Linked DNA regions of Homo sapiens. The protein of the gene in region 1 interacts with the protein of each later gene in a biochemical or structural test. Each region holds a gene or a part of one and is shown on either strand. Other genes may lie near its edges.

The links. The genes of interacting proteins can lie anywhere in the genome.
Region 2: the proteins of ITGAV (region 1) and PXN form a complex in vitro, tested with the Homo sapiens proteins (one study listed by BioGRID).

What each region holds. Positions count from the first base shown.
Region 1 is NC_000002.12:186,676,948-186,679,274, forward strand, and holds part of ITGAV (integrin alpha-V isoform 1 preproprotein), read left to right. Parts: intron 1-249; coding exon 250-345; 3' UTR 346-2,327.
Region 2 is NC_000012.12:120,213,698-120,217,351, reverse strand, and holds part of PXN (paxillin), read left to right. Parts: intron 1-235; coding exon 236-511; intron 512-770; coding exon 771-1,079; coding exon of another isoform or gene 1,080-1,422; intron 1,423-1,690; coding exon 1,691-1,792; intron 1,793-1,934; coding exon of another isoform or gene 1,935-2,078; coding exon 2,079-2,249; intron 2,250-2,353; coding exon 2,354-2,527; intron 2,528-3,134; coding exon 3,135-3,216; intron 3,217-3,361; coding exon 3,362-3,510; intron 3,511-3,654. UniProt on the Homo sapiens protein: Cytoskeletal protein involved in actin-membrane attachment at sites of cell adhesion to the extracellular matrix (focal adhesion). Recruits other proteins such as TRIM15 to focal adhesion.

The DNA of each region.
Region 1 (2,327 bases):
CTTAGAAAGAAGGAGAGAGGGAAAGCAGAAGAAAAGGGAAAGGGAAGAAGGAAAAGAAGAATGAAAAGTAAGGGAAGGAAGAAAGGGACTGTAATGATGATACTTGATGAGCATTACTTATTATATGAGGGAAGATAAATTTTATGAAATACAATTTAAATGTTCTTAGTGGTAATATAGTCACCCAAAAAATACTTTTCGTATTCTACACTGATGTGACAGTAATAATGGTTTTTCTTCAACTGACAGATGGGCTTTTTTAAACGGGTCCGGCCACCTCAAGAAGAACAAGAAAGGGAGCAGCTTCAACCTCATGAAAATGGTGAAGGAAACTCAGAAACTTAACTGCAGTTTTTAAGTTATGCTACATCTTGACCCACTAGAATTAGCAACTTTATTATAGATTTAAACTTTCTTCATGAGGAGTAAAAATCCAAGGCTTTACTGCTGATAGTGCTAATTGGCATTAACCACAAAATGAGAATTATATTTGTCAACCTTCTCCTTATAAATAAGTTCAGACATACATTTAATAACATAGGGTGACTTGTGTTTTTAGGTATTTAAATAATAAAATTTCAAGGGATAGTTTTTATTCAATGTATATAAGACAGGTAGTGCCTGATTTACTACTTTATATAAAATAGTACCTCCTTCAGTTACTGTTTCTGATTTAATGTACGGAACTTTATTTGTTGTTGTTGTTGTTGTTGTTGTTGTTGTTTTAAAGCAGTCCAAATTTGGACCTTAGCAATCATGTCTTTTGTATAGGTACTTAATGTTAATACATATTACACTACAGTTTACTTTTCAGAATACTAAAGACTTTATAACTGCATGAACTTGGATTTTTTTAATCACTCATATGGTAGAATTTTATAAACACATACATGATACCATCCAAATTCTTGCTTTTAATAACAAAGGTACAATATTTTGTTTTAGTATGAAAATCTGGTAGATCCTATTACACTTCTGTTTATATTAAATCCACAATATTTTATTACATTTTTAACTTGTATAAATTTTAGGTCAAATCCTTCAAGCCAACCTATACTAAAAATTAGTTCCATAATCACAAATGGCTCTTTTGTGTAATTGTTTAATTTCACCTGAATATCATAATGCTTAAAGCCATATGGAGTTGGAAATTATTTCCAAAGCATATTTATTCCATTGTTTTAGTCTGGCTATTTACAGTATAAAAAAAGCATTTTTATTAAAATACTGTGTAGTTCTTTGAGATAGTTGCTTATGCATATAGTAAGTATTACATTCTTAGAGTAGAGCAGAGTTTTTAGTTAGTATTAATTTATTTTCCTCCATTCATGTACTTTTCCTTATATTTCCAAAACTGTTACTGAGAATGGGTCAAGATCAGTGAGAAATCTTTACAGTTGACAGGAACCTGGACCCCTTACCCCAACTTTATGAGTAATGCTTGGAATAAAAACTCTTAAGGCAACTCACTGATTTACTTCTAGCAATAGCATGATGTTACAGGAATATTACCTCTGTTTAAGCAAGGTAATGTGTAAAATCAGTCTCGGCTGTCAGAATAACTTCTAAAAGGTATTTTTATAAGCAGTTCAAGTTACTGAAAACCTTTTAAACCTTTCTGAAGTTCGTTAGTATAAATTACTTTTCTAGGATTATTAATAAAAGCCACATAGGTGGCAAGTTGTAGTTTTATATGGCTCTGTAGAGTGGTGAACCTTCTAGAGGAATATATGATTTATTCACAGTTCCTCAAGGCCTGGGGATGATGATCAGTTATACCTATTTTTGTGCAATTACATCATGTTGTACATTAGAAATGGAGAGTTTAATAGCTCTTTAACTGCTGTCCTCATTAGGTAATGATAAATATTTCCCTTAAATAATTGACTATTTTGCTGTGTTTTAAAAATGATTGAAATTTATCTTGCCATATCTCATAATTTCATGCACAAGTTGACTGAGCTAATCTTGAGAATATATTCGTAAAATAGGAGCACATTTAGTTGAGGTATACAAGGTAGGACTCTAGACAAAACCTTCTATTTTAGCTTTAGTGAATTTCAAAAGTAATGGGTCTTGGAGTATAGATTTTTATTAGTAGCTTGAAAGAGCTTAATCATATGCAGTAAGTATTTTTATTACCAATAAATTTAAAATTTTTTAAGAAAAATATTTTTATCCTAGGGCCAAGTGTTGCCTGCCACCAATCAGTAAGTTAGTCTATAACAAATTTTACCCTAACAGTTTTACCACCTAGTAACAGTCATTTCTGAAAATATGTTGGATAGAAAGTCACTCTTTGGCAAAAGTGTTAGAATTTGCTTTTG
Region 2 (3,654 bases), on another chromosome or scaffold:
AGAGGTCTCGCTCGCAGCCTGTGCTTCTGGAGCCAGTCCGATCTGCCCCCTCCCCTTGCCTCTACCCACCTCCACCGGTCCAATCTGCCCCCTCCCCGTGCCTCCACCCACCTCCGCTTGGTTCTTTGGTGGTTTTCTTTTGTGCTCCCTCTCCTGAGGCATCTGAGTGTGGCCTGAGCAGCGTTGTGCAAGCTGGGAGTGGGACGGTGACAGCCTCCCCTCCCCCTCCCCCTAGATCCGATCTGTGATCAGGAGGAGCTGGGAGTCTGGCCACGCACACCCCATGTCCCGGGAGCCCTCCCCTCGCCGCCGGCTGGACCCTGCCACCTTGAGCAGGACCCCATCCCAGGAACAGCTCATCGCGGAGCTGCAGGGGCGGCTGGGCATCCAGCCTGAGGCAGAGGAGCCGGCGGAGGCGGCGGGGCCCTCTGCCCAGGACTGGCTGACCGAGGGCGTCATCATCACTGTGCAGCCACGTGGGAAGCGGGCCGGGGGGCAGCTCGTAGAGAAGGTGGCGAGGAGATGCCCATGGCTGGGGCTGGGCCAGAGCCAAGCACCTGGGGTCCGGGTTCTTCCCTGGCCCCAGTGCTGGCCGGAGGGGAGATCTGGGGAGAGGGTGGGGGTTTCTTGCCTCCTGTGACTTTGGAAGACTGGCCCCACTCTTGGTGCAGAGTGGGAAGGCCCAGGGGGAGCCTGGGGAGGTCCCGCCACCCCTGTGGGCTGAGCTGGCGATTTCTTCCTCATCGCTCTCCCTCCTTTCTTCTCCCCAGGTTGTCTTCCCTCCTGGCTCTCCCATTCCCCTGAGAAGAACCATCTCTGTCCTGGCTTCTCCTTCTGTCCCTTTGCTCCAGCATCGCACAGACGCCGCGGCCAGCAGCTCTTCTCCCCTGCCCAGCCTGCTCGCCTCCTCCCCCCTGGGGCCCTCAGCTTATACCTGTGGTTCTTCTGGGGTCCAGAGTGCAGGGGAAGAGCCCCATGATGAGGGGGTGCAGGGCCCTGCCCTTCCCATTCCTGCACCCCACACCATGAGGTCCGTGGGCTGCCAGACTGATGAGGACCCGCTCTTCCCCCCGATGCAGGCAGGCCTTAAAGGAGCCCCTCCCTTTCTGTCCCCTGTCCTAATGCCTGAGCCATCCCCCACTCTGCACACACACACGTGCACACACACATACACAGATACCCTCCATCCCTCCATCTACAAGCCCCAGCACAGTAACCACAGTCCTGCCGTAAACCTTGACCCCGGTCTTCCCCCACTCAGAAGGTCCGCTGCCCTCTTGCTTTTCTGTGGGTCCACCCATGTCTGCTCCTTCCTCGACTGGTCCTCAGTACTGCCCCGGGCTCCCATCGAGGAAAGAAGCCACTCCAGAAGGGAGACCAGAAACCTGTCTCCTCCCTTCCAGCCCCCAGGCCCAGCGCCCGGTGAGGCCTCATCACTGAGCCCGGCCACCTCCCCTTGCCATTTCCTCTGCCTTTGGTCGACTCCCCTCCCTGTCCTTCTTCCTTTCTCCCTAGGCCTCTCTCTCAGGGCTCTTTTTCTCCAGATTTTTTCCCCCAATTTTGGTCCTGCCGGTGGGGGAGAAACCCTCAGATCTCATCCTAGATTCCCTTTTAGTCCAGTGACAAGGTCTTGTATTCTTTCTTAATTTTTAAAAAAGATTTCTTACCCTCATCTCTTCCCCTATCTAAGATCCAGGGCCTGGAGCAAAGAGCGGATGGGGAGCGGTGCTGGGCGGCCGGCTGGCCTCGGGACGGCGGGCGGAGCAGCCCCGGAGGGCAGGACGAGGGAGGGGTCAGTGCCAAGGCTGGGCTGGGTGTCCTGCGTGTCGTGCTCTCCCTGGGCTTGGCCATGCCTGCTGGGTGCCCTCAGCCTTTCCGACCCTGGTGGGCCCCTCCGACCACCAGGAGTCCTGCTGACGTCACTCCCACTTTAGGGCTCCTGGCCCCTGGAGGAGGTTGTACTTCTTGTCTCCATCAGCTCATCTGTCCAGGAGGGAGAAAAGTACCCCCATCCCTGTGCTGCCAGACACCGTACCCCGAGCCTCAGGAGTCCTGACCAGCCCCCTCCGTGTCCACAGTTCATGGCCCAGGGGAAGACAGGGAGCAGCTCACCCCCTGGGGGGCCCCCGAAGCCCGGGAGCCAGCTGGACAGCATGCTGGGGAGCCTGCAGTCTGACCTGAACAAGCTGGGGGTCGCCACAGTCGCCAAAGGAGTCTGCGGGGCCTGCAAGAAGCCCATCGCCGGGCAGGTGATGAGGGGGAGTGGGCAGGGGTGTGGCCAGTGGACTCCTGCAGGGGTGGGGGTGCTCCGGGGCTGGCCTTGGCCCTGGACCGCATTCCATCTCCTCCTCAGGTTGTGACCGCCATGGGGAAGACGTGGCACCCCGAGCACTTCGTCTGCACCCACTGCCAGGAGGAGATCGGATCCCGGAACTTCTTCGAGCGGGATGGACAGCCCTACTGTGAAAAGGACTACCACAACCTCTTCTCCCCGCGCTGCTACTACTGCAACGGCCCCATCCTGGATGTGAGTTCCTCATCCGGCACCGCGCCCGCTTCCGCTCATTCCAGCTTCACCGCAGCCCTCTGAGGATGCAGGGGGTGCCGTGGGAGGCTCAGAGAGGTCACATGCCCGAGGCTCACAGGGCTAGGGAACAGTGGGGCCGGATTCACAGCCACACCTGAACCACAGCCTGTCCCGATGTGCATCGGGCAGCCCCACCTCCCTTCACCTCCCATCTCGATTCCTTTCTGTGGAGACTCCCAGGACTCAGGAGCCCTGAGGAGATAAATGGAGTTGGATGCCAGCGGCCTCACTCTCCCTCTCTGTGAACTTAGGAAATGCCTGGCCTCTCTGAGCCTATGTTTCTTCACTTATAAAATGGGAGTCATAGAACTTGTGCCCTCTACTTGGGGTGAGGAGTAGAGGAGAGGGTATGTGTCTGGCTTGTCCCATCCTGAGTAACTCTGAATTCTTAGAGGCATTCACAGCACAATTAGGAGAGACCCCCATCTTGGGAGTGTTTTGCTCTGTCTATGGCTATGAGCTGCGGGTGGAAGGACGGCCTTGCTGGGCGTCTCAGTTGTGAGATCTGCCCAGAGCTCAGCCTTGATCCCACATTTTGCTTTCACAGAAAGTGGTGACAGCCCTTGACCGGACGTGGCACCCTGAACACTTCTTCTGTGCACAGTGTGGAGCCTTCTTTGGTCCCGAAGGTACGGGCTGGACCGGCGGACTGACCCACCGCCTCTTAGGAGGGCCGGGGAGGTGGGGGTGGGAGACGCTGCTGAGGTTGGAGTCAGAGTGGCTCCACTTCTGGAAGCCGGAATGAACTGTGCCTCCAAAACCCCCGCTCCCCAGGGTTCCACGAGAAGGACGGCAAGGCCTACTGTCGCAAGGACTACTTCGACATGTTCGCACCCAAGTGTGGCGGCTGCGCCCGGGCCATCCTGGAGAACTATATCTCAGCCCTCAACACGCTGTGGCATCCTGAGTGCTTTGTGTGCCGGGTAAGGAGCCCCTGACCACATCTGGAGGGGCGAGGAGCAGGCAGTGGGGAGAGAGGGGTCTTCCTCATTGTGCTGTCTGGATCCAACTCAGAGGCCTCATTTGGGGTTATTAATTGGGGGAGCAGGCAGGGGATCTCCTTCCTC